Linked DNA regions of Homo sapiens. The protein of the gene in region 4 purifies or fractionates together with the protein of the main gene of each other region. This does not show direct contact. Each region holds a gene or a part of one and is shown on either strand. Other genes may lie near its edges. The genes, in order: BMPR1A, USP33, STAT5A and TLR2.

Region 1 (7,647 bases), on a different chromosome or scaffold from region 4:
AAACCCAAACCTTTTCCCATTTCATCATATCTTGTCTGTAGCCAACATCTGTTGATTCTGCTTTATGATATTGTAACTCTTCTGCTCTCTATTCTTGCTAACTGTGGGGCAATTCTGAATTCATATTGGTGTGAAGGTAGTAGTCAAATCATAAAACGAGTTGGGCAGCTTTCCTTCTTTTTCTCTTTTTCAGGATCATTTTAGACTGGGATTATCTGTTCCTTGAAAGTTTGGAAGACCTCCCCTATGTGACCATTTAGGCCTAGATCTTTTTTCTGGAGAGGACTTTGAGTAACACTTCAATTTCTTTAATAGCTGTTGGTTTGTGTCGATTTTCTGATTCTCATATGAATTTTAATGTTTCACATTTTTTTCAGGAATTTATTTTCAAATCTAGTGTTATTTGGCTTTCACGTAGTTCTCCCCCCACCACCCCGCGACTCCACCCCCACCCCCTAACTCTAAATCAAGTTCTCATCCCACCTGGACTAATGTTATGATTTTCTTGCCTTCACTTTTCTCCTTTATCTAATCTTATGTATTTCTGCCTAAATTAATCTGTAAGCCCAGTTCTTACCACTTCGCCACTCAGAAGTTTCCTAGGTCTTCCATTAAATGAAATATTTTCTGTGGTATTTGCCTCAGATTTACCTGTTTTTTTTTTTTTTTTTTTTTAATACCTTATTGTTTTTTCTTTCTTTCTTTCTTTCTTTCTTTTTTTTTTTTTTTTTTTTTTTGATACAGAGTCTCGCACTGTCGCCTGGGCTGGAGTGCAATGGCGTGAGCTCAGCTCATTGCAACCTCTGCCTCCTGGGTTCAAGGGATTCTCCTGCCTCAGCCTCCCAGGTAGCTGGGACCACGCCTGGCTAATTTTTGTATTTTTAGTAGAGGTGGGGTTTTGCCATGTTGGCCAGGCTGGTCTTAAACTCCTGACCTCAGTTGATCCGCTCGCCTCAGCCTCCCTGTGCTGGGGTTACACAGGTGAGGCACTGTGGCTGGCCTTTATAGCAGTTTTTATACAAATATTAGTTTCACTACTAGTTTGCAGGGTGGGTCTGTAACGGACTTTTCTTGCATATTAAAAGGAATAAATGGGGAAAGGCTCCTGTCTAGCCTAACAGTAGCTGTTGAACTGTCCTGATCTGACTATTGGATCTTAGGAGCAGCGAACCATGGAGAGAAAGGAAAATGGGTTTCCTATCACACTAAATTTTGAAGTAGGAACCATTTCTTTTCCTTTTCTACTTTCCCACCTTTTACTAGTTTTTAGGCTTTAGGATGTCTTTTTAACATCACAAGGTCCATATTGACCAAGTTGGACCAACTTTTTAACACAAGATTAAATGTTGACTTGCATTGAGTTATGTCCATTGTAAGATACACAGTAGTGTTACAGACCACTTAAAATATGCTTCTAGTTGTAAGAAGCCATTGATTGTAAGGTGCACCCCAATTCCGGAGATGCTAAAATATGAAAAATGGATGCATCTTAGAATTGATGAATAGTGTTTCTCTCCCTAATCAAAGCTCTTGGATGTGCCTGGAAATCCCCAGTAGTGTTTTTTGAAAAGAACACTAGTTAGGGGCATAGGGAGATCAGATGATCAGTAGACTCCATCTCAGGGTGGCCCCTGTGGTCCCTAAGCCAGTTCGTATGGGCAGTTTAATATATAACTAATGAGTAGACATTGAATAGATGAGTAAATTATCTTTGAGTATCTTTTATTTACTCTGATGTTGTAGACTTTGTTACTCTTTTATAGTTTTATATTTCTGATGAGCCTTCCTTTCTTATGGCACAGATTTGTTATACTGTTAAAGTCTGGAACAGTGGAGCTTGGCTCTTGATCCAGCTGTATATAATTGGCTGTTGACTTATGAAGGAGGACAGGAGTATGCTAGAGATAGGGATAAAATATTATAATCACATTTGCAGTTAGGGAGATTAGTTACATGTTGGAAAATCATTTTGAAGAAAGGAAGACTGAAGATGTTCAAACTTGTAGGAAGGTCTTTCTGGCCTAGCCCGGATTAAACCCATTTATGCCTAGTGTTCCACTATTGGAACGCTAAGCACGTGGGAGTTATTTATATCCTGCTCAAGGTCATCACCAAGGTCTGATTGCAAAAATTCAAAAAATTGCAGCCTCAGGCATAAATGGGTTAAGATGGTGGCAGATAATTAGGGCCTGGAATGGATAGGAGGCGATAACTAGCGTGGATGAGAGAAGGAATGGGATTGGCAAGAACAACTCCTGGATTTCTAGCTTGGAAAGCAGGGTAGATGTGGGTGACAGATATGAAAAATGAGGTGGGAGAGCTGGTTTGTAGAAGAAAATAGTATTGGATCACATGGAGTTTGAGATATCTGAAACAGCCAAGTAGGGATTTCCACTTGGCAGTTGTCTATATGGGTCTGGGGTTTGACAGAGGTTTGTGCTGGAGGTAGGCATTTGGGAGTCATTGCTGTATAGATTTTATATTCCAACAGTGGGAATTGGGTGGCTCTCTCAAGTGACTCTTGCTTACAAGTGACAGCCCTAACTCAAGTTAGCTTAAAGGAGGGAAAAGCTTCTCCCCACTAACCCCCATGATATTGAAAGGTCTAGAAATAGACATGGCTGGACCTAAGTGCTCAAATGATATAATTAATTGAGGTTGTCTTTTCTGTTCTTCACTTTTGTGGTCTCATTTCAGGCAGGTGCATATATCTGGCAGAGGAAGACATAGGTTATAGGTTATAGAATTACAGGTTATAGGTTATAGACCTCGTATCGAGAACTCCTTGTATGGTCTAGCAAAGAGCCTAAAACAGCATTGAGAATTTTTTTTCTTTCTTTTTGAGACGGAGTCTTGCTATGTTTCCCAGGCTGGAGTGCAGTGGTGCGATCTGGGCTCACTGCAACCTCCGCCTCCTGGGTTCAAGTGATTATCCTGGCTCAGCTTCCCGAGTAGCTGGGTTTAACAGGCGCCCGCCAATACGCCTGGCTCCTTTTTGTATTTTTAGTAGAGACAGGGTTTTGCCTCGTGGGCCAGGCTGGTCTCAACTCCTGACCTCAGGTGATCCTTCCGCCTTGGCCTCCCAAAGTTCTGGGATTACAGGTGTGAGCCACTGCGCCTGGCCAGTCTTGAGAAATTTCAACTTAAGGCCTGGGTAGAGAAGATAGACATTAAATAATTATCTAGTTGTAGTTATGTTAAGATCTACAAAAAGGAAGTCCAGGGAATGTTACAAGACTGATAAGGGAAGCTGGGCTGTTCAGGATGCGGGTACTTTGGAAGGCTTTCCTGAGAAAGGTAGCCCGCAGAGTGAGACCTTAGGCAAGAAAGGACAAGGAGACTGTTTTTGGAAGTATTCAGTAGTATTTATTTATTTATTTGAGACGGAGTCTCACTCTGTCGCCCAGGCTGGAGTGCAGTGGCGTGATCTTGGCTCACTGCAACCTCTACCTCCCGGGTTAAGCGATTCTCATGCCTCAGCCTCCCAAGTAGTTGGGGTCACAAGCGTGAGCCACCACGCCTGGCTAATTTTTGTATTTTTAGTAGAGACGGGGTTTCGCTGTGTTGGTCAGGCTGATCTCGAACTCCTGACCTCGTGATCCGCCCACCTCGGCCTCCCAAAGTGCTGGGATTACAGGCATGAGCCACTGCGCCCGGCCAGAAGTATTCGGTAAAGTGAGCAGTTTTTGCAGCTTTTTAAAAATTTTAAAGGCAATACATCTATTGTGGGTAATTTGGGAAGTATAAAAAGCCATAAAGAAGCAGCGGAATGATTAAGTTTCAGCTTCTAATTTTTTATAAATAATGTCTGATACTGGTTTTACTACTGAGTACCTATTCAATCACGGATGCCACACTAACCCAATCCGAATCTTCGTTTCTTTATCTTAAAAAATAGAAGGAACATGGTGAACTTTAAGATAATTTTTCTGCTTAAAAAAAGAAAAAGAAAGAAAATATCTTGACTTGCAGCACAGTTAGCTGCCGAAATTGAAGGTCATATAATGCTTTTGGTCCTAATGACATCACTGGACTTCTGACTTTTGGCTGAAGAATCACGCCAGCCTTGGCAGTCCTTGCAAGTACCAAAGGGAGTATGGCTTATGCCTGCGGTGCCCTTCCCGTATCCTGCTTTCTTACCTCCTTTTTTGAGCATTAATTTTTTTTTCTTTAGCCTTTGGGTAAAGTATCAAAATGTTGAGAAGATAGACTCTCAATTTTGAAGGTGAGAAATCTGTAGGAGACTTGGATAGTTGTTTTTTTTTTTTTTTTTTTGAGACGGAGTCTCGCTCTGTCGCCCAGGCTGGAGTGCAGTGGCGCATGTTGGCTCACTGCAAGCTCTGCCTCCCGGGTTCACGCCATTCTCCTGCCTCAGCCTCCTGAGTAGCTGGGACCACAGGAGCCCGCCACCACGCCTAGCTAATTTTTTCTATTTTTTAGTAGAGACAGGGTTTCACCGTGTTAGCCAGGATGGTCTCAATCTCCTGACCTCGTGATCCTCCCGCCTCAGCCTCCCAAAGTGCTGGGATTACAGGCGTGAGCCACCACATCTGGCTGACTTGGATAGTTTTGATACTGTTTTATGTATATTAAGATTTGTAGGTAGTTTTCTTACTAGTAATTAAAATGCTTTGTAATGTATTTCAAGAGTATAGGGTCTTGAGTGTTTTAAATTTGTATATAAGAATGTTTTAGATTCCTGGCTAAAAGAAGCTCTTGTTAGAAAATATTAAAGTAAAGGCTGTTAAATTTTGGTGAGGCTCTTAATGTCTGCATTTTTCAAGAATCATTTAAAAATGTCATGAAATAAAAATATTTCAGTGGTAACTGTTCAGAAGTATCTTAAATGTATACCAAATCAATGAAATATAATCGCTGGGTGACAGATTATTCTTCCTTCATTTTATAATCTTTTATTTAATAAAAATGTGGGGGAAAAATTGCATGTTGAAGTTGTACGTGTATATTTTAGCAAAAACTGTTAATCTTTCTGAAGTACTGCTTTGGTCATCATCCCTATTTGTTAAATATTTTTCCCTGTTTTCTTATTTGCTTACAATAGAAAATCCAGAATATCTTGGACTGGTCTCCTGCTCTGGCCAAGTCAGCCTTTTCTGCTTTGCTTCCTTTCCTACTATTTTATCAGCCTAAGTCACGTAAATATCCGATTCAGGTTTGGGTTCAGAATCCTTAGACCTCTACTGTCCACTACAATAGATAGCCACTACCACATGTGGCTGTTGAAGACTTGAACTGTGGCTAGTCTAAGTGTGAATTACGTACCAGATTTTGAAGATAGTACCAAAAGATGTAAAATATCTCATTATGCTTTTAAAATATTGGTTATATAGTGAGATGATACTGTTAGGGATACATTGGATTAAAGAAATATATTAAAACTGATTTTGGCCGGGCATGGTGGCTCATGCCTGTAATCCCAGCACTGTGGGAGGATTGCTTGAGCCCAGCAGCTTGAGACCAGCCTGGGTAACGTGGTGAGACCTTGTCTCAGTTAAAAAAACAAAACTGATTTCACAGGATTCTTTTTACTTTTTAAATGTGGCAACTAGAAAGTTTAAAATTACACGTCATATTGGACAGTACTGCCTTTGACTTTCCTTTCCCTGGTTCTTTGCCCATCAGAATGCTTTAAAATCTAGTATAAATCCTTGGCCAGGTGCTGTGGCTCACGCCTGTAATCCCAGCACTTTGGGAGGCCGAGGCGGGAGGATCACGAGGTCAGGAACTCGAGACCAGCCTGACCAACATGGTGAAACCCCATCTCCACTAAAAATACAAAAATTAGCCGGGTGTGGTGGCACGCCTGTAATCCCAGGTACTCAGGAGGCTAAGACAGGAGAATCACTTGAACCTGGGAGGTGGAGGTTGCAGTGAGCCGAGATTGCACCATTGCACTCCAGCCTGGGCGACAGAGTAAGACTCTGTCTCAAAAAAAAAAAAAAAAAAAAAAGAATATTCCTCTCTCTCCTATGAAGCCCTCCTCAGTGGTCCAAGCCTCATAGTTGGCTCTTTGCTGCATCATTATTTGAAGATAATCTTTTGGTATATTAGATTTCTTTACTACAAACCTTCTCAGAACTTTTAATATGCTAATACACATGGTGAAACTCTAGTATAGTTTCCCTAACTACGTATTACCATAGAACTGTGTGTTTTCTGTTAACAGAAGTTACACATATTTGTGGTTGAAATTTCAAACAATACAGAAATGAAGTAATGAAAGTCTTCTGTAATCATGCTTCACCTGTGCCCCAAGATTGCCACTGTTGAAAGTATAGAGCTAGAAAAAATTTTCTTTTCTGTTGCCTTCTTTCTTTTTTTCTGTCCCCATTTCCTAAAATGGGGTCATACGATACATCCTTATCTTTAAATTTATTTTCACTGAATATATAGGGGGATTCTTTTTATGTCAGTAAATTTCAATTTCCTCATTCTTTTTTTTTTTTTTGAGGGAAGGTCTTGTTCTGTTGCCCAGGCTGCAGTGGTGCTGTGGTGCAAACAGCTCACTGCAGCATCCAACTCCTGGGCTCAAGCAATCCTCCCATCTCAGCCTCCTGAATAGCTGGGACCAGAGGTGCATGCTACCATGCCCAGCTAATTAAAAAATTTTTGTGTGTGTGGAGGTGGGATCTCACCATGATGCCTAGGCTGGTCTCGAACTCCTGGGCTAAAGTGATCCTCCCACCTAGGCCTCCCAAAGTGCTGAGATTACAGGTGTGAGGTGTTGTGCGCAGCCTTAATCATCTCATTCTTTATAGTAGTTAAGCAGTTATTCCATTTTCTGATTATACCTTAATTTTACTTACCAGTTTCGTGTTAATGAATAATTAGATTATTTCCATTTTTTTCTTTTGCATTGCAAATATGCTGTGGTGTTTGTACATATCCTTTGAGACTGTTTTTATTTTATGAAATGAATTCTTAGAAATGCATTTACTATAAGAGAAGCCGTGCAGATTGGATGGAAAGTGCCAAGCCACCCTGCAAAATCTTCGTAACCATTCATATTCCAGCCAACAGTATTTGAATATGTTCTCTCCTCCCAACATAATCATATCAGTCTTTTTTTTTTTTTTTTGAGACGGAGTCTCGCTCTTTCACCCAGGCGGGAGTGCAGTGGCGCTATCTCTGCTCACAGCAAGCTCCGCCTCCTGGGTTCATGCCATTCTCCTGCCTCAGCCTCCCGAGTACAGGCGCCCGCCATCACACCTGGCTAATTTTTTTTTGTATTTTTAGTGGAGACGGGGTTTCACCGTGTTAGCCAGGATGGTTTTTTTTTTTTTTTTGGAGACCGAGTCTTGCTCTGCTGCCAGGCTGGAGTGCAGTGGTGCCATCCTGGCTCACTGCAGCCTCTGCCTCCCGGATTCAAGTGATTCTCCTGACTCAGCCTCCGGAGTAGCTCAGACAACAGGTGCACGTCACCATGTCCAGCTAATTTTTGTATTTTTAGTAGAGACAGGGTTTCACCATGTTGGTCAGGATGGTCTTGATCTCGTGACCTCGTGATCCGCCCGCCTTGGCCTCCCAAAGTGCTGGGATTACAGGCGTGAGGCACCACGCCCGGCCATATCAGTCTGTTTTTATCTTTGCCAGTTTGCCAGCTGAAAAAACATTCATGATATAAGG
Region 2 (7,116 bases), on a different chromosome or scaffold from region 4:
TTTATACCTAATACCTCCCCATCACTGACAATAGAAAAATGAGAAACACTGTTCAAACAGACCTCAAAAGGCAAGTTAAACAAAAAGATCATAAGGCTCAACTGCAAAAGAGTAAGTAGGATCCTACCTTTGGTAAACTGACACCAGAGAAACCAAAAGTTTGTTTTGCAAATAAAATTTTACTAGGCCAAATTTCAGAGTCCTTTTGTTTTAATTATCAAGCCCATTTTACCTCCACATTTTGAAACTTTTACATTATATGGTTTTCTAAAGAAATGGGCAGTGCCATACAAAGAAGCGTTACACAGGATTAATTTACCTCTGGCCCTAAGTTCATCTTCTTCATCCGCTTCTATATCCAGATCATCAAATACGGCAACCAGAGGAGTTTTTAATGTTGTATTACTGGGTATTTTAAAATCCTTGATAACAAAAAAAGATAGCACACTTGAACAAATCCTTAAATTTAAAAAAAGTTTTAATTGTAACTTATATAACATCTATACCATAAAAATTATTGAGATGTTATTTTAATAGTGGAACCATAAGAATTTGTGGTATTAGCAATTAAACTTACATTTATATTTTGAAGGAAATAAAACCCTAGGGTAATAGCATGTCAGTCCCGCTTTATTAACATATATATTTGAGTTAAAAAGGCACTTTTTACAACCGAATTTTCTGAATTAAAACTCCACAATAACTGCAATTATGTGACAGTAAACCATAGCTAAAAAGATCTCCGAAGGATACTATCCTACACTGTCTTCTCAGATCTCATTTTCAACAGGGAAAAAGGCAAAAGTTTTTCATCATAACACATTATCTATAGACTTCTACAATCTCTCCTGATACTTATTACTGTATTTACTTTGCACACTTTTTTTTTTCCGAAACAGAGTCTCACTCTGTTGCCAGGCTGGAGTGCAGTGGCACGATCTCAGCTCACTGCAACCTCCACCTCCTGGGTTCAAACGCTTCTCCTGCCTCAGACTCCCAAGCAGCTGGGACTATAGGTGCATGCCACAACGCCCAGCTAATTTTTGTATTTTTAGTAGAGAAGGGGTTTCACCATGTTGGCCTGAATGGTCTTGATCTCTTGACCTCATGATCCGCCCACCTCGGCCTCCCAAAATGCTGGGATTACAGGTGTGAGACACCACACCCGGCCTGCACACTTTTACGTATATTAAATAGTTCAAGCACTTACTTTAAATAATAATATTCTAATATTAATTTCCAACAATTGGCTTGACTCAGAGGTTGCAACTGATAACCTGTTAGCCAAATGCTAGTAAACACTTTAAAAAAAAAAACGAAAAAAACTTTGAGCTAAAGTTTAAAAAATTCGGAGACGACAAATAAAAATCAAAATTTGAAAGTTCTCTTGTAATATCAGAAGATTGAACTACAATGAACCAACATTCAGCAACACCCAAACAGAGAAGGAAACTGAATAGCAGAAAGAATTTAGCATGTACTCTGGTTCTCCAAGTTATTATAGCCTTACTTTACCTCTAAAATGCAGGCATATGCACTAATTCCCAACGATTTTACTTTCCTGACATCTGTAGAGACTGGACATTTGAGTGGACTTCATACTTTCATTTTGTTTTCATAAAGTAATTGCTTTTAAAAAGATACATGCTCACTACAAAATATCTAAATACACAGAAGTACAGAGGCTTAAATCACCTGAAATTTTACTATCTAGAAAAAATGTCTATTTGAAAAATCTTATTAATATTTGCATGGCCTCCAATATTTTACTATTTTGCAAATATCCTGTGGTAAACTGGATTTCAACAGCATATAAGTTTTGGACCACTAAAGAAATCTATCTGAACCACTGTTTTCTTCTGAATAATTTCTTCAACAATGGGATCATAAGGAAGTTGAATGAAATTAAGTTTATGCCTTTTATGTGTTAACATATTTACAAGTCATCAGAAAATTATTAACAAGCCATCAGGAAAGTATCAGTATACTTATTCTATCAGATTCAACATTTATTAAAGTTTGTAATCTTGATCTTTTCTGGCAGAAATGGCAACAGATAGCTTATTTAACTTACTTCTCTAGTAAGTGATGCTGATAGTTTTGCCTTTATATATTATTAGTTCCTTGTGTGATTAAACTTTAGTCATAACATTACACTTTTTTCTTTTTTAAAACTTTTTCTACTTATTACCATTCAGCTATCTTCAGTGGGACAAACTTTTGTTAATAATGTAAGAGGATTCAACGAAACGGCCATTTTCATACTATCTGGACTTTTGAAAAAGACTAAACATGTTTGTGAATGATAAATAGGTATAAGTGGGAGAAACAGTAATGGTTATAATTAACTAGAGCCATTCAACTGAGAAACTGAAAATGCAAGAAATTATTCTTTGACTAAAATCTAGCCATCTTTCATGTGTAAGGCAAGCAAATTTATTATCACAAATATCTACCATAAGAATGTGATACAAACATACAACAGAAAAACCTGACAGTTGGTATCAATGAACAAGTACAGAAATATGTGATTTCTATAACACACATGAGGAAAAAAACTTGCTGTTAATCAAATCTGATCAAATTCTGATCAACTGATGATCTGATTAAGAAGCCAACTATTCTAAGTTAATTTCCTTTTTCCTATTTTTCTATGACTTTAAGAATTCTGAAAATTAAGTGATAAATTCTGCAAGCAAACCCATGTGTTTTCTAAGTCTCTTGATCCAAAAGGAGAAAAATCTTTTTTTCTTTTTTTTTTTTAGATGGAGTCTCACTCTGTCACCTAGGCTGGAGTGCAGTGGCAAGGTCTCGGCTCACTGCCAGCTCTGCCTCCCAGGTTCACGCCATTCTCCTGCCTCAGCCTCCAAAGTAGCTGGGAATACAGGTGCCCGCCACCACACCCGGCTAATGTTTTGTATTTTTAGTAGAGACGGGGTGTCACCATGTTAGCCAGGATGGTCTCGATCTCCTGACCTCGTGATCCAGCCGCCTTGGCCTCCCAAAGCACTGGGATTACAGGCGTGAGCCACCGCACCCAGCCCAAAGGGAGAAAAATCTTTAACCCAAAGACTGATGCTAAGCTTTATTATATTCTACTTTGTTGTCAATAATAAGTAAAATGTTCACAGTAATACAAAGGGGATGGAGGGGAGGAGAGAACGGGGAAGAGAGCTGAATTAGTAACTGCCATATGCTATCAAAGAAGGCCCACCACCTTTCTTGAAATCAGACTTACCAGAAAAAGATAAAGACTACTTGAGTCATTTAAAAAAAAAAACTTCAAAAATTCATTAGGGCCTTTTCCATCTTCAAACAGGTGGGCTTCAATCTCACCCTAATCTAGCACTCTAAGCAACACAAGAAAGGGGAGTCTGAGTGCTTTATTTGAGAGAAAAAAGGCACATTACAGAAATTTTCAAAGTACAGGTTAGGCAGTATTCCTTTTGAAAATTTCAGCTACATGACAAATTCTGAAATTATTACCGGAATGTTTTACAGCTTAACTAAGTGGATCTAGATTATTACCTGGACACTGTTTTCTTGTATTTGGTGAGGTTGTCTTACATGAGGCAATGAAGGCTGAGTTCCTAATTTCCTATCCAAAAATACTTCTTTGCTGCAAGCATAACACCATACTCGAAGAGTGGTAAGGTTCACAGTTAGATAATGCTTTGTCTCCTATATAATTTCACAGTAGAGGGAAAAGAGGAACCAAAATTACATATACTTGAAAAGACTTCTTCAAAAGATAACAGAAGATAAACTGCTTGCCTTTGATGAGTAACAATATACTCAAAAGCTAATTTAGAACATGAAAAAAATTCTTTAGATAAACTTCTAAGGTATAATAAACAGTAACAACATCTAAGCCTACTCTAGAAATTACTCTGCCATTCTCCCCTCACTATTCATTATACAAAAAGATAAACGCAAGAGTGTAAGACCTTGCTTTGCAGTCTACAAATAAATATAACACAAGAAAATAATTAACAATAGCAAGTAACTATTCTAAGAAATCAGAATGGCAAAAGAACACAAATGACATGAGTCAAGGCATAAAACAGCTCTAGCAATACAGAATATATAATCTTGGAAAGATAAAAGTCTAGCCTTTCACAACCAGAGTTCTGCTACAGAATTAAGCCCTACAAAAAATGATCTGAGTGACTAATTTATCAATTCTCCCAATGGTGGTACACAGCAAATACCATCTTAGATGCACAGAAAGAGGCAAATGATATACAATGATGACTCAGAGCTTGGGTATTCAGGCTTAATTAATTCTATAGAGGAATCCTGGTTGAGAACAGTTGATGCTGTAGAGGTATCAATGTGCATCTTAAAACAAAGTCATTCGAGAAACTTTCCATTTAGAATGGGAGCTCTACATAACACTATAGAAGAGGCATGCCAGAGTTACATGGGAAGTACCAAACAACCAGAGCAAAGCAGAAAGGTGAGTCCAGTTAGGACTATGTGCAGGAAAAGGCAATATGACATGAGCTGAGACTTAAAGAAGTTAGCCAGGCCATGTCATAAACCTAAGCACCCACTCTCTCTTGGGCTTCAACCTCCTAATATGCCAGCTATCACCTTCAAATATCTGGATATACACTTTTTTTTTTTTTTTTGAGATGGAGTTTCGCTCTTGTTGCCCAGGCTGGAGTGCAATGGCACGATCTCGGCTCACTGCAACCTCCGCCTCCCAGGTTCAAACAATTCTCCTGCCTCAGCCTCCCGAGTAGCTGGGATTACAGGTGCCCACCACCACACCCAGCTAATTTTTTTGTACTTTTAATAGAGACAGGGTTTCGCCATGTTGGCCAGGCTGGTCTCGAACTCCTGACCTCAGGTGATCCACCTGCCTTGGCCTTCCAAAGTGCTGGGATTCAGGCGTGAGCCACCATGCCTGGCCGGATGTACACTTTTGAAATCAGTGCTTTCTTAATCACAACCTCATTCTAATGTTCATCCTCCTAGCAATTCCCTTCCCCATCCTTCACAGAGAATGTAAGTGAAGTTTTAACTTAGAGTGCAAATTTGAATTACAACTTGAATTAATAATGTTATACTGGCTTTCCCTTTCCTTCAGGCACTTTTTTTAACAAGTCTTCCATTAAATTTTTTATATACATACCTGAGAATGTATGGTGCTGTGATCTACTTGTGATTCACCACAGCCAACATATGAACATCTATTCTATAAATAATTATATAGGAAGAAAAATAAGGTACTTTATAATATACATGTAAATTTATAACAGCATTACAATTACATTTACAATTAAGTTTGGATTACCTGTTTTACATTCAATGAGTAAATGACTTTCCAGTCATTAAATTTAACCAAATGTTTCCAGGCACAAAATAAAACCAGGATATATTTCTAAGCTAAAAGCTATGTCATTTCTAATAAAAGGCAAGCATAAAATAGCTGAGTGATTTACTAAAAACTACAAAAGCACTACAGATTAAGATCTTTCCAAAGTTTAATTTTTGTTATTAATAATGACCTTTTAAAAGCAAGTTTAATTTACAAAAATCACTTTAAGTATCAAAAATTTTCTGGTTATGATTATTCAGATCCAAATTTATTATTATTATAGCAATCTTTTCAGGAAAAAACATATACACACCTCCAGACATGCCCAAAGATTTGGTCCTTGGACTTTACAATCCTGACAAGTACCCTATAAAAAGAAATTAAAAAGACAACATTGGTTATATTGACACAAACACATACAATTCACTAATGCACTAATGACATCATACATATTTTTAAAATACTGCTCATAGAGTATTACAGTAATTTATGAAAATTACACATTCAAGAGAAAAGTGAATAGTTTTTCAAGGAAGAAAAAACCTGTTTCTTACAAGGGATTTTTGTATCAAATCTTCTTTTGTTATTTCACCAACTGAATCCAAATGTGGACAATGATTTCGAAAAGCTGACATTTTGTTAGGAATTTTTTCCTGTTTCCCAAGACTTTCAAAATGAGGTAACACCTATAAGAAAAGTAACACACACAAAAAAATTAATAAATGCTTACAATGCCTGCAAAGATTCCAAAAAATAAAAAAATTAAAATGTTAACATATTAAAAATGATTAAAAGATAACATAAGAATGATATAAGTTTGCCCTGTAAAAAGAGTGTATTCTCAAACATAGATGAGTTTTCAGAATTGAAGTTAATCTGAACACTGGAAATTTCTCTACTACATAAACATTTTATTAAAATTGACATCTATAAACAAATGTAAGTTTGTTTCTCCATGACTTTTGCTGCTTTTCCCCTCTCATTTCACTTTTTATAGATAAATAAAAGGGGGGAATATTCAAGTTATTCAACTGTGAAGCACTTTTATCCTTTTAAAAAAAAAATTAATCCTTAGGCTGGACTAGGAGTTGAAAAAAAAAAACTTCAAGTAGAAAGCTTCATTTTTCTACTAATAGGACCCCCTACTGATGGCATAAATTAAATCATCTGGTATCCTGGCCTTATACCAGGATAAGCACTTTATATCAGGGTTTCTCGATCCCGGCACTATTGACACTTAGGGCCAGATAATTCTTCGCTGTGAGGGATTGTCCTGTGCACTGCAGGTTATTTGGCAACATTCCCACTTCTATCCACAAGAGACAGACAGACCATCCCTGCCACCACTCTGAACTCTGATGACCAGTGTCTCTAGACTGTTTTAAATTATACCCTCTGGGGGACAAAATCTCTCCAGGTTTGAGAACCCCATTTTCATGATCTTTACAACCCCTGAAATAGGCACCATTATTAGCTTCATTTGCACATAAGGCTAAGAGATGCAAACTTTACTGATCCACAGTGTTTGGTTCAAGTAAAGCGAGTGATTTCCAAAGGTCTCAAGTCTAATTTGGTATTCCTAGATCTTTTGGTTGTACCTTTTTAATAACAGGGCTTTTCATGCTCTTAATTCAACTTTGAGGTTTGAGAACACTTTCCCAAAAAAAGTTTAGAACTTGCTAGGATAGAATGAAACAGTTTAAAAGTTTGAACTTCAGAAACACTGTAAATTTAATTTCCTTTGTGGTTTATAAGTTATTCAATAAACCATGCAGGTCTATGTAATAGTT
Region 3 (7,593 bases), on a different chromosome or scaffold from region 4:
TTCTGGAGGCTGAGGCAGGAGGATCACTTGAGCCCAGGAGGTCAAGGCTGCAGTGAGCTGTGATTGCACCACTGCCCTCCAGTCTGGGCGACCGAGCGAGACCCTGTCTCGAAGAAAATAAAGCAGATTGCGGCCATGGGTGGTGGGTCTTGCCTGTAATCCCAGCACTTTGGGAGGCCAAGGAGGGTGGATCACCTGAGGTCAGGGGTTCGAGATCAACCTGACCAACATGGAGAAACCCCGTCTCTACTAAAAATACAAAATTAGCCAGGTGTGGTGACACATGCCTGTAATCCCAGCTACTTGGGAAGCTGAGGCAGGAGAATCGCTTGAACCCGGGAGGCAGAGGTTGTGGTGAGCCGAGATTGCACCATTGCACTCCAGCCTGGGCAACAAGAGTGAAACTCCATATCAAAAAAAAAAATACATAAAAAAAAATAAAGCAGATTGGGCATGTTGCCTAAGCAGAGGGCACGTGGTGGTCACGCCCCATCAACTTGGGTTCCTTTGACTCCTGTAGACTCTGTCCCTACCTGTGGTTGTCATCGTCCACGGCAGCCAGGACCACAATGCCACGGCTACTGTGCTGTGGGACAATGCCTTTGCTGAGCCGGTGAGTCCCCGTGGGAGCCCTACCCCAGCACCCCCAGGCCCTAGGACTCACCTGGGGTCAGCCCCACCCCTTGGGCCCCTGCTGAGTGGTCCTTCCTCACCCCAGGGCCAGCCCAGAGGTGAGGTGAGGCCAGAAGGGCTGGGGTGCTGGGCGCCTGCCTTCCACCATGGCCTTGGCACTCTGGGTTCCAGGTTCCTGGACTGGGGTCTGTGAGGACTGTGAGCTTGGTCTTTGGATCCTGGTCTGGGATCCTCCTTTGGCAGATGGCTTGGGTCCTTGCTCTCTGTTTTCTGTTTCCTGGTCTGCATCTCTGTCCCTGCATGCCCCCACCCCCTGCATCGGTTTTCTTCCCTGCAGGCTGGGAAAAAAAGTGCAAGCTAGTATATAAAAGCCGCCGCATTTCCTGCCCTTGCATTTGTGTCACCTTTCTGGATCTGTCTCAGTCTCCTCTGTCTCTAGGTGTCTGTGTATCTTGTGTGTGTGTGAATATTTCCAACTCCCTCAATCTACCTTTTCCCCTCTCTTGTCTCCCTCTCAGGGCAGGGTGCCATTTGCCGTGCCTGACAAAGTGCTGTGGCCGCAGCTGTGTGAGGCGCTCAACATGAAATTCAAGGCCGAAGTGCAGAGCAACCGGGGCCTGACCAAGGAGAACCTCGTGTTCCTGGCGCAGAAACTGTTCAACAACAGCAGCAGCCACCTGGAGGACTACAGTGGCCTGTCCGTGTCCTGGTCCCAGTTCAACAGGGTGAGGGGCCCAGCTGCCAGCCGCCCACCAGGGCCCACCGGGGTCTGTTGCTCCTCCACCTCACAGACAGGTTACTGCCTGGGGCTAGCACCCCACTCTCCACCCCCAACCACTCTCTCCTACAACCAGGAGAGATGGGGGCCCCTAGCCTCAAGAAATGCAGGCAGGGGCTATAGGAGTTGTGCTTAGTTGTGAAGCCAAGAGCGAGATGACGGAGGGCCCAGGGCTGGGAGTCAGGATCCTTGGGTTCTGGGCCTAGATGTGTTTGCTAATTTTCTTTTTTTTTTTTAGAGACAGAATCTCATTCTGTCACCCAGGCTGGAGTGCAGTGGCGTGATTTCAGCTTACTGTAACCTCTGCCTCCCGGGTTCAAGTGATTCTCGTGCCTCAGCCTCCTGAGTAGCTGGAATTATAGGTGCCTGCCACCATGCTGGGCTAATTTTTGTATTTTTAGTAGAGATGGGGTTTCACCATGTTGGTCAGGCTGGTCTCGAACTCCTGACCTCAGGTGATCCGCCCACCTCGGCCTCCCAAAGTGCTGGGATTACAGGCGTGAGCCACCACGCCTGTGGCTCTGGCTCTCCTTCTGCCTCTCTCCTTGCTAATTTTTGAAGACCCATCCATTCTCTGTGCCTCAGTTTCCCCACCTGTAAAATGAGGGGATGACTTTGGAGGAATGACTTTGGAGGCCCCATCCAGCCTAGATTATTCTTTACACCTCTTACTCCCACCCTTGGGCTGGTCTTGGACCCCTGTGTCTTAGAAGTGAGTTTCCTCTCTGTTTTCCTAGGGTACAAGTTGGGGGCTGTGTCACTTTATGGTCTGCTGGAGTGTGGTGGCAAGCAGGGGTGAAGAACTGGGAGAAGACTGGGTGGGGGCAGGAGGGCCCTGACTTTCCTGGGCCACCTGTGACCTGGGGCACCAGCCCTGACTCGGGGGTTCCTGGGCCCTCAGGAGAACTTGCCGGGCTGGAACTACACCTTCTGGCAGTGGTTTGACGGGGTGATGGAGGTGTTGAAGAAGCACCACAAGCCCCACTGGAATGATGGGTAAGGAACGGGGGCTGCAGGGTCAGGGGCCAGCTGTGGGCGCAGAGAGACTGTGGCTGTGGCCCAGTGGTGACGCTCAATGCTCCGTGCACCCAGGGCCATCCTAGGTTTTGTGAATAAGCAACAGGCCCACGACCTGCTCATCAACAAGCCCGACGGGACCTTCTTGTTGCGCTTTAGTGACTCAGAAATCGGGGGCATCACCATCGCCTGGAAGTTTGACTCCCGTGAGTGCCCGTTTTGCCCACACTCCAGCCCCAAGGCCCGGTCTCTTGTTCCCTTGCCCCGCCACCCCACCCTCCATCGGGCCTGTGTCCTTAGAAGGTACCCAGCGGGAAGCTTAGTATGAGAGGGCTGTGGCTTGGAAATGTATTCTCTTTCTATTGTTTTCCATTTTGGAGAACCTGAAGTCCCCAGCCCCATAGACTCCAGGACGGCTGGGCGAGTCCTCCTGCAGTTTCACGCTCTCCCCTCTCTGCCACGACCCAGCCTTGTTGGTATCTGCTCATCTGGTTTGCTGAGTAGAACATCCCGCATCGGCTTTCTTCCCTACAGGCTGGGGCTGCAGCGCAAGCTACTATATAAAAGCCCAGATTTCTCTTGCAAGCCTGCCCTAAAGCCCCACAACCTTGGTCCTCCTGCTGCTGGTGGATTATGGGAATGAGGCTGTTCTTTTCACAGCGGAACGCAACCTGTGGAACCTGAAACCATTCACCACGCGGGATTTCTCCATCAGGTCCCTGGCTGACCGGCTGGGGGACCTGAGCTATCTCATCTATGTGTTTCCTGACCGCCCCAAGGATGAGGTCTTCTCCAAGTACTACACTCCTGTGCTGGGTGGGTACTGCCCCAGGACCCTGCCGGCTGACTCCCCCGGGCTCTTCCCCAGCCCATAGACAAAGCCTTGGGCTGCGCCGTGGGGACTTCCCCAGGAGGAGCCTAGGGGCCATGTCCCCTGTGGGTTTTGGCCCATGGGGTGGTGGAGAGGATTTCAGGGCTCACAAATGAGGAGAGGGAACGAGAAACCCGTCCCAGCTCTCTTCTCTGCAAAGTGAAAGCTGCATGGATTCTCACTTCTGCACCCTCGGAGGAAGGGGTGGCAGCACTGTAGGGAGTGGCCGGGATCATTCGAGCCCACAGATAGTGCTCCGCTCCCCACCTCACCAGCTGCTCTCCACACCCTGCTCACAAACCTTCCCCCGAGTGGAGTGCAGGCAGCAAAAGGGAGAAGTCTCTCTTCTTCCAGCTGCCCCAAATCCATTGGTTGGGTTTGCTTGTTGATTCTCATTCTTTGACAGGGGTGGGAGCAGGGAGAGGGAAATCAGATGGCCAGAAAAAGAACCAGAAGGAATGGGATTCAAGCCAGGGGTCTCAGTGACCCTCAGGCAGGATTCATCAGCTGGTGTTTATTGGGGGTCCTTGGGAAATCTCATCCCAGCTGAGAACACAAGGTGATGTGAGCAGGAGGGAGACTACATGGGGCGTGGGCTTCCACCCCACTTGGGAGTTCCCAGAGACTTTGGTTCTCACCACTGTTCTTCCCTTGACAGCTAAAGCTGTTGATGGATATGTGAAACCACAGATCAAGCAAGTGGTCCCTGAGTAAGTGTCCAGGTGGCTGTGGCTCTCCTTCTGCCTCTTTCCTCCTCCCCCAGACCCTGCCTCCCATCCTGATCCTGGGCCCAGCTTTCCGCTCCCCCAGGGAACCTGTCTCAGCCCTGGGGAGGGAGTCCCCTCTCCTGTAGCTGGAGCCCCAGGGCCGAGTGGGGCACTTTGTCCGTCTACACCCCGAGAAAGACAAACATGCCCCTCGGTCCCCTCCCCAAGTCAGCTGCCCCGGCCTCCCTGGTGGCTGAAGCTCTGTTCTCTTCCTTCTGCAGGTTTGTGAATGCATCTGCAGATGCTGGGGGCAGCAGCGCCACGTACATGGACCAGGCCCCCTCCCCAGCTGTGTGCCCCCAGGCTCCCTATAACATGTACCCACAGAAGTAGGTGGTGTTCTCATGGGGTCCGCAGGGGAAGAACTGGGGACTTGGCCCCAGGCTGGACTCCTGGAGGGCTGGCGGGCAAAGGATCCAGAGCTCTGGTTAGGCCCAAGTCCAGGAGGAGTGAGATCAGCCAGGAAAACAGAGCATTTTGAAGCTAGACATAGCAGGGTCAAGTCCTCACTCTAGTACTAACTGTGTGATCTTGGGAAAATGATTGAGCCTCTCTGATGCTCAAGTTTCCTTATGTGTAAAACGGAGGCAAGAATGCTTGCCTCATGAGAATGGGATGAGCATTAAACTGAGACAGTGTGGGTGAAGCATTTCCACAGGGAGGGGCTTGGAAGGGCTTGATACAGGGTAGCTATGAATGGGGTGGTTGTTCTTGAGTCTGGTGGGAACAAGGTAGATAATTAATTCCCTTCCTCACTGTGGATAGCCAGGGCTGGATGTCTGGGAGGTACCACCTTCCAGTGGGACCACTGAAGATCCCAGGTTCCAATCCGGACTCCACCACCTCCCAGCCAGGTGGCCCAGAGCAAGCTTCCTGATATGGCCTTGGTTTTCTCGTCTATAAAACGGGGTCAATACCCACTCTCCAGTTGGCTGTAAAAATTGGAGTCATGTGCTCAATAGGCTCAGCTGTTCTAGGTGCTCAGTGAAAAGATTCAGCTGTTCTAAGTGCTCAGTGAACGGGGCGGTGCCTACCATTGCAGCTGAGCATCATTGCAGGTGGGCAGAGCCCACTGTGTCAGCCACCTGGTTTTAAGATGAGGACACGGAGAGGGGAAATGAATTCCCTAAGATTATTCAGTGAGTTAGCAAGAGATGCGAATAGAGTGGGGGTCTGCAGAAGCCAGTGGGCTGACTGCTACCCAGCTTGGGGTGGGGTGGGGGCATCCAGCCAGAACTGGTCCTGTTCTCATGAGACGGGTTTGAGTGGAGAGCAGGCTGGAGGCTGTCCCCAGGGAGCTTGAGGCTGTGAGACATGCCAGCTCCCTCTGACATCCCCCTGTCTTTACCAGCCCTGACCATGTACTCGATCAGGATGGAGAATTCGACCTGGATGAGACCATGGATGTGGCCAGGCACGTGGAGGAACTCTTACGCCGACCAATGGACAGTCTTGACTCCCGCCTCTCGCCCCCTGCCGGTCTTTTCACCTCTGCCAGAGGCTCCCTCTCATGAATGTTTGAATCCCACGCTTCTCTTTGGAAACAATATGCAATGTGAAGCGGTCGTGTTGTGAGTTTAGTAAGGCTGTGTACACTGACACCTTTGCAGGCATGCATGTGCTTGTGTGTGTGTGTGTGTGTGTGTCCTTGTGCATGAGCTACGCCTGCCTCCCCTGTGCAGTCCTGGGATGTGGCTGCAGCAGCGGTGGCCTCTTTTCAGATCATGGCATCCAAGAGTGCGCCGAGTCTGTCTCTGTCATGGTAGAGACCGAGCCTCTGTCACTGCAGGCACTCAATGCAGCCAGACCTATTCCTCCTGGGCCCCTCATCTGCTCAGCAGCTATTTGAATGAGATGATTCAGAAGGGGAGGGGAGACAGGTAACGTCTGTAAGCTGAAGTTTCACTCCGGAGTGAGAAGCTTTGCCCTCCTAAGAGAGAGAGACAGAGAGACAGAGAGAGAGAAAGAGAGAGTGTGTGGGTCTATGTAAATGCATCTGTCCTCATGTGTTGATGTAACCGATTCATCTCTCAGAAGGGAGGCTGGGGTTCATTTTCGAGTAGTATTTTATACTTTAGTGAACGTGGACTCCAGACTCTCTGTGAACCCTATGAGAGCGCGTCTGGGCCCGGCCATGTCCTTAGCACAGGGGGGCCGCCGGTTTGAGTGAGGGTTTCTGAGCTGCTCTGAATTAGTCCTTGCTTGGCTGCTTGGCCTTGGGCTTCATTCAAGTCTATGATGCTGTTGCCCACGTTTCCCGGGATATATATTCTCTCCCCTCCGTTGGGCCCCAGCCTTCTTTGCTTGCCTCTCTGTTTGTAACCTTGTCGACAAAGAGGTAGAAAAGATTGGGTCTAGGATATGGTGGGTGGACAGGGGCCCCGGGACTTGGAGGGTTGGTCCTCTTGCCTCCTGGAAAAAACAAAAACAAAAAACTGCAGTGAAAGACAAGCTGCAAATCAGCCATGTGCTGCGTGCCTGTGGAATCTGGAGTGAGGGGTAAAAGCTGATCTGGTTTGACTCCGCTGGAGGTGGGGCCTGGAGCAGGCCTTGCGCTGTTGCGTAACTGGCTGTGTTCTGGTGAGGCCTTGCTCCCAACCCCACACGCTCCTCCCTCTGAGGCTGTAGGACTCGCAGTCAGGGGCAGCTGACCATGGAAGATTGAGAGCCCAAGGTTTAAACTTCTCTGAAGGGAGGTGGGGATGAGAAGAGGGGTTTTTTTGTACTTTGTACAAAGACCACACATTTGTGTAAACAGTGTTTTGGAATAAAATATTTTTTTCATAAATTTGCTGCTATGGCTCCTGGTTGGGGCGTTGGTGGCCTCCCTGGGTGATGGGAACCCCTGGAGCTGGTTGTTCTGTTCCTTCCCGCGTGCATGCCTGATGCTGTCATTTTTAGTCTTAAATTTTAACTCTGCCCGCTTTGCTGTGGTTTTCAGGGTGCTGGCCACCCCTGGAATACTGTCAATGCTTCTCAGAAGGGTAAGGAGCCAGTTTAGGGGGCACAGATTCCTTAAAAAGCAGGGGACTCGAGGTTTGGGGAAATGATGGAGATGGGCGCGGGTGGGCAGAACTCTGACCCAGGCTTCTCCTTAGCAGCTGCTGCTCCCAGCAGCCTCGAAGCTGGCGGCTGAGGGCCCGGCGCCAAGATGCTTCTCAACCCTCGGGGCCAGGGGCAGTCCCAGAGCCGCAACAACCGTCCCATCCTCCTCCTTCCCAGAGACCAGCAGGTGGCACCACGCGGCTGCGCTGTTTTCAGCTGGCTGCCGGCGACTGTGCGAGGCGGAGGTGCAGCAAGCGGGACCGGCTCGCCCCGGCTGGACCCCCGCACTGCCGGCTGCAGCCAGTCCCTGCTGTCGCTGGGGCCCTTGGGCTCAGGGACGCGCGCTCCCTGGGCGGGGCTGGGAGCCAGGTTTGCGGGCAGGTTCCTTCTGAGCTCAGAGCTCAAGCGAGGGAGAGGGGCGGCGCGTGGGCCCCAAGAGGGAGGTGCAGGGGGCCCAGAGCAGGGGGAAGGCGGGGGTGGGA
Region 4 (8,392 bases):
GCTCCCTATACACCTTGAATTTCATGCTAAATAATCTGCAAGTTCTGGAAAATGCTGCTTAACTCTAGAAAAACTGACTAACCTTGATCTTGGTCAGCATATACTTGGTTCTTTACATATCACTTATCAATGGTCAGAAAGGGAAGAATACTTGAACTTATCTAACACAAAAATTCACAATTTAACCAATTGTTTCCCAGACACGAGGCTTACTAGAAGTGAGCCTTGTAAACTTTTATTTAGCTGCAATTTAAATAACTTTACATTTTCAGATATGTGTTGAAGACCCTACCAGATGCTTTCTTCCCCTTTGAGAAGAAGCAGGAAAAGAAAACTTTCTCTAAAGGGCAACTTGACTCTTTTCACACACTGAAGACTTTGGAAGCTGGTGGCAACAACTTCATTTGCTCCTGTGAATTCCTCTCCTTCACTCAGGAGCAGCAAGCACTGGCCAAAGTTCTTATCGGTTGGCCAGCAAACTACCTGTGTGACTCTCCATCCCACGTGTGTGGCCAACAGGTTCAGGACGTCTGCCTTTTGGTGTCGGAGTGCCACAGGGTGGCACTGGTGTCTGGCATGTGCTGTGCCCTGTTCCTGCTGATCCTGCCCATGGGGGTTCTGTGCCACTGTTTCCACAGCCCGTGGTACATGAAAATGATGTGGGCCTGGCTCTAGGCCAAAAGGAAGCACAGGAAAGCTTGCAGCAGGGACATCTGCTATGACGCATTTGTTTCTTATAGTGAGCAGGATGCCTACTGGGTGGAGAACCTTATGGTCCAGGAGCTGGAGAACTTCAATCCCCTCTTCAAGTTGTGTCTTCATAAGTGGGACTTCATTCCTGGCAAGTGGATCATTGACAATATCATTGACTCCATTGAAAAGAGACACAAAACTGTCTTTGTGCTTTCTGAAAACTTTGTGAAGAGTGAGTGGTGCAAGAAGGAACTGGACTTCTCCCATTTCCGTCTTTTTGATGAGAACAGTGATGCTGCCATTCTCATTCTTCTGGAGCCCATTAAGAAGCCATTTGCCTTAGTCAATCTGGGCTGCTATAGCAAAAATGCCAATAGACTGGGTAGTTTATAGATAAGAGAAATTCATTTCTCACAGATCTAGAGGCTGGGAAGTCCAAGATCAAGGTGTTGGCAGATTTGGTATCTGGTGAGGAACTCTTCCAGGCTCAAAGATAGCTGTCTTCTCACTGTGTTCTTGGTGGTGGAAGGGGTGAGGGAACTCTCTGAAGTTTCTTTTGGAAGGGAACTAATCCCATTCATGAAGCTTCTGCCCCCATGACCTAATCACTCATCAAAGGGCCCACCTCCAGTACCTCACATTGGGGGTTAGGATTTCAACAGATGAATTTCAGGAGGACACAGGCCTTCAGTCTATGGCTAGGATCATTCCCCAGCATTTCTGTTAAGCTGCAGAAGATAATTAACACCTAGACCTGCCTGGAGTGGCCACTAATGAAGCTCAGCGGGAAGGGTTTTAGTTAAAGAAAACTCCTAGTTTTTAGTTCGACCATTGTGGAAGACAGTGGTGATTCCTCAAGGATCTAGAACTAGAAATACCATTTGACCCAGCCATCCCATTACTGGGTATATACCCAAAGGATTATAAATCATGCTACTATAAAGACACATGCACACGTATGTTTATTGCGGTACTATTCACAATAACAAAGACTTGGAACCAACCCAAACGTCCATCAATGATAGACTGGATTAAGAAAATGTGGCACATATACACCATGGAATACTATGCAGCCATAAAAAAGGATGAGTTCATGTCCTTTGTAGGGACATGGATGAAGCTGGAAACCATCATTATGAGCAAACTATCACAAGGACAAAAAACCAAACACTGCATGTTCTCACTCATAGGTGGGAATTGAACAATTCCCACCTGGACACAGGGTGGGGAACATCACACACCAGGGCCTAACGTGGGGTGGGGGGCTGGGGGAGGGGTAGCATTAGGAGAAATACCTAATGTGAATGACGAGTTAATGGGTGCAGCACACCAACATGGCACATGTATACATATGTAACTAACCTGCACGTTGTGCACATGTACCCTAGAACTTAAAGTATAATAATAATAAATAAAACATATCAAAAAAAAGAAAAATGAGCTTGGGAGTCATCATGCCTCCTGCTCCCTTCCCCTGCCCCCAGCCCCCAGCCCCACTTCTGGCTGGGACCTTTGAAGAGTGCAGTTCCCTCTTCCCCATAATTCATTCTGTCCATCTACTCATTCCAACACACTTTTTGATCTGATTTCTATGGCTCAGCTCCAAGGTGCTTGCCTCAGTCCCCTGGCCCGCAGGAGCCCACAAAAAAAAAAAAAAAAAAAAACTCCTAGTTTTTAAAAGGGAAATATATACAACATGAAATATTCTGTTTTCAGAACTTGGTTCTATGTTAACTTAGAAGTTTACTACTATTATTTTGCATAGGCAATATTTTTGAAATGTCTTAAAAAATTACGGACATACGGACATCTGTGCAGAGTAAAAAAATTTTGAAGAATGTATGTTCATGTATAAAGATCTGTAAAATAATGCAGGATTTATGGCATATTTTCATTAAGTGGTTTTCGGTGGATGAGTTTCTTATTATTTCATCTGACAATTACAATATACTTTATGTGAAAAAGACATAGACTGTGTGTTTTGTTTTGTTTTTTCGAAACAGAGTCTCACTCTTATCTCCCAGCCTCAACACACTGGACTCAAACGATCCTCCAACCTCAGCCTCCTGAGTAGCTGGGGTTACAGCTACAAACCATCATGCCTGGCTAATTTTTGAATTTTTGTAGAGATGGGGGTCTCCCTGTTTTGCCCAGGCTGGTCTCAAACTCCTGGACTCAAGATCCTCCTGTCTTGGGCTCCCAAAGTGCCGGGATTACAGGTGTGAACCACCACGCTGGCCTTGTGTTTTCGGATAACTTTCAGATAACAGCTTAGGATTTCAGTTAGATGCTCAAAACTATGAATATATACAATGAAAGTTACCCTTTCCCCAAATATTAGTACATTTCATATGCCGTGTTGATTTTCTAACTTTAATCAACATTTTTCTTTTTTTTGGTAGAGAGTTATAGGAGGTCTTATATCTAGATACAGAAGGAGACTTGGAGTCTAACCTGGGATTTGCCACATGTTAACTGTGAGCCATGCGACTCTGGGCAAGTTCCCTAATCACTTTAACCAAAGGAATAGTAATATCAGAATTATTTATTGCATGTGTTATTGTAAGATTCAGATGAAATTCTAGATGTGAAGGTGCTTCAAAAATGTCAAGAACTAGGCCGGGTGCTGTGGCTCACACCTGTAATCCCAGCACTTTGGGAGGCCTAGGCTGGTGGATCACTTGGTGCCAGGAGTTCAAGACCAGCCTGGTCAACATAGCAAAACCCTGTCTCTACCAAAAATACAAAAATTAGCCAGGCGTGGTGGCACGCACCTGTAATCCCACCTACTTGGGAGGCTGAGGCAGAGAATTGCTTGAATCTGGGAGGTGGAGACTGCAGTGAGATGAGATTGCACCACTGCACTCCAGCCTGGGTGACAAAACGAGACTCCATCTCAGAAAAAAAAAAAAAAAAAAAGAAAATGTCAAGAACTGAACAAGTATAAGGACTGTGTCTGAATTGGACGTGCTAATAGCTTTGTGGACAGTGTACAACTACCTTCAATATATGCAGAGGACACTGATTTGTGGCTAAATAAATGATTTCTATCTGACTTTGCCAGACAATTCTAATTGACTTTGGGATTATAGAGCAATAGCATCAAAATCCACCTTAGGCAGTTCAACTAGGGAAGAGAAATAGAGAAAAAACAAGTTTTTAGTTTCAGGAGAAATAATTTGAAGGAAGTTTTCTTTTGTCAGAAATCACAAGGTAGAGAGCTGGAGATTTGGAATTAATAAGAAAGCATTTTCAGCCAGCTGGACAACCTGATGGTCAGGATAAAGAAAAATAGTAAGATAGTGACCTGTATACAAAAACCTCTCAATTTCATATTTAGGTCTATTGATTAAGTTTCCCTGATGTTCCAACCATCAGAGAGGATTAGGGATGTGGAACAGGGTAGGAGAAACAGCCCTGGATTTAAGGTAAAATTCTGGTTTCAAATCTCAGTTCTGTCATATGTTATACAATTCACATGACATTTTCTTGTGTAAGGGAGGAACAAGGATGCTTGCTCTGCTTCATATCTCACTTTGTGAAAATCAAATGTAATTATGAACATAAAAGGTAGATTATTAACATTAAGGCAGTTGAATTTTAAAAGCTTGTTTTCTTCCCTTATACATATTCCTAACCGTGGAGACAGCTAGGTTCTGTGGCAATGAAGAAAATTGATCAATGACTGTTTTTGGTATTACTTTGGGAAGTAGGGATGGAATAGGGGCAAGGGAAGGGCTTAGCTTCAAACTGTAGACAGAAGTGGGAAGCCCAAATCTTTGCATGGTGAGAAGTGGGATGGAATGTAGGTGCTAGAGATGGTGCACCAGTAGGGACTGTCACTGGATTGGGGAAAAAAATCCGGGGCTGTCCTTATCTGCTCCCTTAGGCAAAATCGTTCTGTGTTAGTCTGGAGGGTGAACCTATTTTAATGCAGGAGGGCATAGACTTTTGGGTGGAAGCGGACCCTGGAGATGTACTGGCAGGTGAATAGAGTGTGGAAAAGTGGGGAAAGGAGAAGCACGATTCATGAGCCTGAGTTCGGGCTTCCATGGATGGAAAAGCATCAGGAGTGGAATTTAAAGACGGTGTGTTTCAGGTGATGTGAGGTCCTGGATGCCCGAAGCTTCAAGAAAATACTGGTTGGGCACTTAGCTTTCCCTGTGGTTGCCAATCCCACGCAGGCCGCCTCTAGCGTCTCGATTCGCTTTTCTCTGACCTGGAACCTCCGCCAAGCCCCCAGCTCTCTTCTTCGACCCAGCCTTGCACGGGGCAGCTGTCGGGGCAGGACCCGCCTCTGGCCTGTCGCAGCCTAGCTCACGGTCAAGGGCGGGAGCCTGCTGGGAAGCACGGCCGCGGGGGCTCGCTCGGGGCCACCTGCCTGGAACTCAGCGCGAGGTCCAGAGTTCCCTCCGGCTGCGCAGCGGCGCACGTGCCCCGTGGAAGGGGCGGTTCCCGCACCCCAGAAGGAGGGGGCGCCCGGCCGCGCGGACTTTCCCTTTTGCTTACTTCCTAGTCCCGGGCAGGCCGGCTCGGAGGCAGCGAGAAAGCGCAGCCAGGCGGCTGCTCGGCGTTCTCTCAGGTGACTGCTCGGAGTTCTCCCAGGTACGTCGTGCGCTCCCCACTCGTGTGGTCTCTCTGCACCCCTTCCTGGGGTCGGGTCGGGCAGGGGCGGAGGGGAGCCGCAGCCCGGTCACGGGCTCTGGGGAACCCGGGCTCCCGTTCGGCTGCACCTGGGCCCCTAGCTCCTGTCCGGGCGGGGATAGCGGGAAGCGCACCAGGCCCCCGGGACGCCGGTGCTTCTTTGCACGGCCCAGCGCGGGAATGTGGACACCAGCGAAGCCGGCTCAGGTCGGCCCTCGGGAGAAGCAGGGGCTACACGGAAAGGGAGCCCGAGGGTCCTGCAGAGCCCGAGGTCGGGACCCCGCGCGTGCAGTGCCAATGGGCTGCGGCTGGGCTGAGCGCCCTTCCAACCTTGCAGGCCCCGGGGGGGTTGCCGCGGAGAGCTTCCGCTGGGGCTCCGGGCCTCTGGCCGCCACCTCCCTCGGGAGGCCGAGGGGGGCGGTGGCCCCGGCCCGGCCCTCCCGCTTCCCTCACGGCCTGGCCCTCCCGCTTCCCTGATTCCCGGTAGGGTCGCTCTCCCCGCCTCCTGGCCCCTCTTGGCTCGGATGACAAAGATTGGGTAAAGGCTTTCAACGAGCTAGCGTCTGGCAGGGGGTGTGTCCTCGCTCACTGGTTACTGCTAGGACGGAGCTTGGATTTTGGTCACCGTGGCTCAGAGGTGGGAAAGGTTCCGTGCTCTGGGTCTGTCCAGGACCCTGGCTCCCTAACCCAAGTCTGACCTCTGCTCCCTGGCAGGCTTCGCCCCACCTCTGCGTTCCTTCATTCTTAGGATGTGTGAGTTAGGTCTCTGATTAGAAAACAACTTACAGCGTTTAAGCAAAGTCGAGTCCTTCAAGTAAGAATGCTTTGAAGTGCCCTTTACAACTTCTTCAACTTCTATAAATATGAACTTGTGTTTAGAACTTAAATGCAAGCCAGGAAAGTCTTTTTCCTGTTTGAAAGAGAGAGAAAGAGAGAGAAAGAGGTGATTGGAAGTGGTGGGTGGGGGCGGAGAAAGAGAAGGAGAGTAATCTGGGTGTAGACAACTCAAAGTTTGCTGAGATGACTTTAATCTTTTGACTCTGTTATTAAGATTTTTACCAAAGAGCAACTGTAGCTATGGTGGCCTGACTTGAAGGGACAGACCAAACAAACAACAAAACACAAAACAAAACAAACAAACAACAAAAGCAAGAGCAGAAACTATTGGAAAATGATTTATTCACCAATATTTTAAAGGTTCTTCCTGTTCTAAGCAAGGAACATCTTTAAGTTCTTTATAATGTACCCATTTTACATTTACAAAAACTGCCAGAAGTTGACAGCATGTTTTGGGGGTTTCTAAGCTATCAGTTAATTTTTTGGGGTACAGTTTTATTGATAAACTAACAGAGTAGAAAAAATCTAATGGAATACCCCCAAATTTAAAAGAGGGCAAGAAAAGAGAGACAATAGAACATAAAACAAATGGGACAAGAATAAAGTACATAGTTGTCACAGTCCCTTGGGTGCTGCTGTAACAAAATACCTGAGACTGGGTAATTTACAAAGAACAGAAATTTATCCATTCATGGTTCTGGAGTCTGGGAAGTCCAAGATTGAAGGGCTGCATCTGGTGAGGGTCATCTGGCTACATTATAACATGATGGAAAGCATCACATGGTGAGAGAGAGCAAGAGAGGACAGAACTTACTTTTATAACAAACTCATTCTCACAATAAACTGCTCCCTTGGTGATAACATTAATCCATTTATGAGGGTACAGCCTTCATAACCTAATCACCTCTTAAAAGGTTCCACCTCTCAGCTCGCAGTGAGCCGAGATCATGCCACTGCACTCCAGCCTGGGTGACAGAGCGAGACTCTGTCTCAAAACAAACAAACAAACAAAAATTCCACCTCTCAACACTGTTGCATTGAAGATGAAATTTCCAATACATGAGCTTTGGGGCACACATTCAAACCATAGCAATAGTTCAATTACTTTAAAGCCCAAAATGTCAGTAATTATATTAAATGCAATTTAATACATCAGTAACTAAATGAGATAGACTAAATTTTATGATAATCAGACTAATATTATCAGACTAGACTTCAAAACAACCCAACAATCATATGCTGTTTACAAGAGACACATTTATGGATACTAAAAGGTATAAAGTGAACAGATGCAACCATTTATCAAAAGAAAGCTGTTGTGGCAATATTACTATTAGACAAAATAGAATTAGGAAAAAAATCATAACTGTAGATAAACGTTTCACTAAGTTAAAGGTTTCACTGAGAAGAAATAAAAATTTTGAATTTATAAGTACTTATAACAACATTAAGAAACTAGAAAATAGAAAAAGAATAGAGCCAAATTGACTGAACTAGAAAAATAGAAAATTCATAGAAAAATCCACAATCATAGTGGGAGATTTTATCATACATCTCTCAGTAACTGATAGAAAAACCAGACAAAAATCAATAAGGATAAAGAAAATGCGAACACAATGTAGTTCACATAAGGAACCTATACTACTTCCAACAGCAGCTGAAATCACAGAGCATACTTAAAATCTGACCATATACTGGCTCATAGAGTAAATTGCAATACATTTTAAAGAATTTAAATCATACAGAATATGTCTTCTGACCATAATGCAATTAAAGTAGAAAAGAACAGAAAAACTTATAGAAAATTCTCATATATTTGGAAATTAGTAAATTTCTAAATAACCCATGGGTCAAAAAATAATCAGAATGAAAATCAGAAAATATTTTTAATGACTTATGAAAAAAATTACATATAAAAACTTGTCAGATGCACCTAAACTGTTGCTTAAAGGAAACTTACAACCTTAAGTGCATATATTAGAAATGAAGAGTGACGAAAAATGAATGAGCAAGCAAATACCTTAAAAACTGGAAAAGGAATAGTAAAATAAATCCAGAGAAATCAGAACAGGGGAAATAATAATATAAGAATAGAAATTAATGTGCTAGAAAATAGGGGATCTATCAAGTCAGAAGTTGATTTTTTGAAAATGCTAATAAAAATGATGAACCTCTGGCAAGACAATAAAAGCTGGTACAAATAACTCATCTAAGGAAT

What was found.
Region 1: the proteins of TLR2 (region 4) and BMPR1A purify together in Homo sapiens (affinity purification with mass spectrometry; 2 studies listed by BioGRID and IntAct, with this or other methods). This does not show direct contact.
Region 2: the proteins of TLR2 (region 4) and USP33 purify together in Homo sapiens (affinity purification with mass spectrometry; 2 studies listed by BioGRID and IntAct, with this or other methods). This does not show direct contact.
Region 3: the proteins of TLR2 (region 4) and STAT5A purify together in Homo sapiens (affinity purification with mass spectrometry; 2 studies listed by BioGRID and IntAct, with this or other methods). This does not show direct contact.

What each region holds. Positions count from the first base shown.
Region 1 is NC_000010.11:86,759,535-86,767,181, forward strand, and holds part of BMPR1A (bone morphogenetic protein receptor type-1A isoform 3 precursor), read left to right. Parts: intron 1-7,647. UniProt on the Homo sapiens protein: On ligand binding, forms a receptor complex consisting of two type II and two type I transmembrane serine/threonine kinases.
Region 2 is NC_000001.11:77,735,737-77,742,852, forward strand, and holds part of USP33 (ubiquitin carboxyl-terminal hydrolase 33), read right to left. Parts: intron 6,013-7,116; coding exon of another isoform or gene 5,962-6,012; coding exon 5,881-5,961; intron 5,694-5,880; coding exon 5,640-5,693; intron 5,204-5,639; coding exon 5,141-5,203; intron 3,682-5,140; coding exon 3,529-3,681; intron 423-3,528; coding exon 320-422; intron 1-319. UniProt on the Homo sapiens protein: Deubiquitinating enzyme involved in various processes such as centrosome duplication, cellular migration and beta-2 adrenergic receptor/ADRB2 recycling.
Region 3 is NC_000017.11:42,305,090-42,312,682, forward strand, and holds the end of STAT5A (signal transducer and activator of transcription 5A), read left to right. Parts: intron 1-520; coding exon 521-613; intron 614-1,151; coding exon 1,152-1,358; intron 1,359-2,312; coding exon 2,313-2,407; intron 2,408-2,503; coding exon 2,504-2,634; intron 2,635-3,088; coding exon 3,089-3,244; intron 3,245-3,957; coding exon 3,958-4,009; intron 4,010-4,287; coding exon 4,288-4,395; intron 4,396-5,417; coding exon 5,418-5,580; coding exon of another isoform or gene 5,581-5,641; 3' UTR 5,642-6,854; downstream 6,855-7,593. UniProt on the Homo sapiens protein: Carries out a dual function: signal transduction and activation of transcription. Mediates cellular responses to the cytokine KITLG/SCF and other growth factors. Mediates cellular responses to ERBB4.
Region 4 is NC_000004.12:153,679,063-153,687,454, forward strand, and holds the start of TLR2 (toll-like receptor 2 precursor), read left to right. Parts: upstream 1-5,217; 5' UTR 5,218-5,298; exon of another isoform or gene 5,299-8,392. UniProt on the Homo sapiens protein: Cooperates with LY96 to mediate the innate immune response to bacterial lipoproteins and other microbial cell wall components. Cooperates with TLR1 or TLR6 to mediate the innate immune response to bacterial lipoproteins or lipopeptides.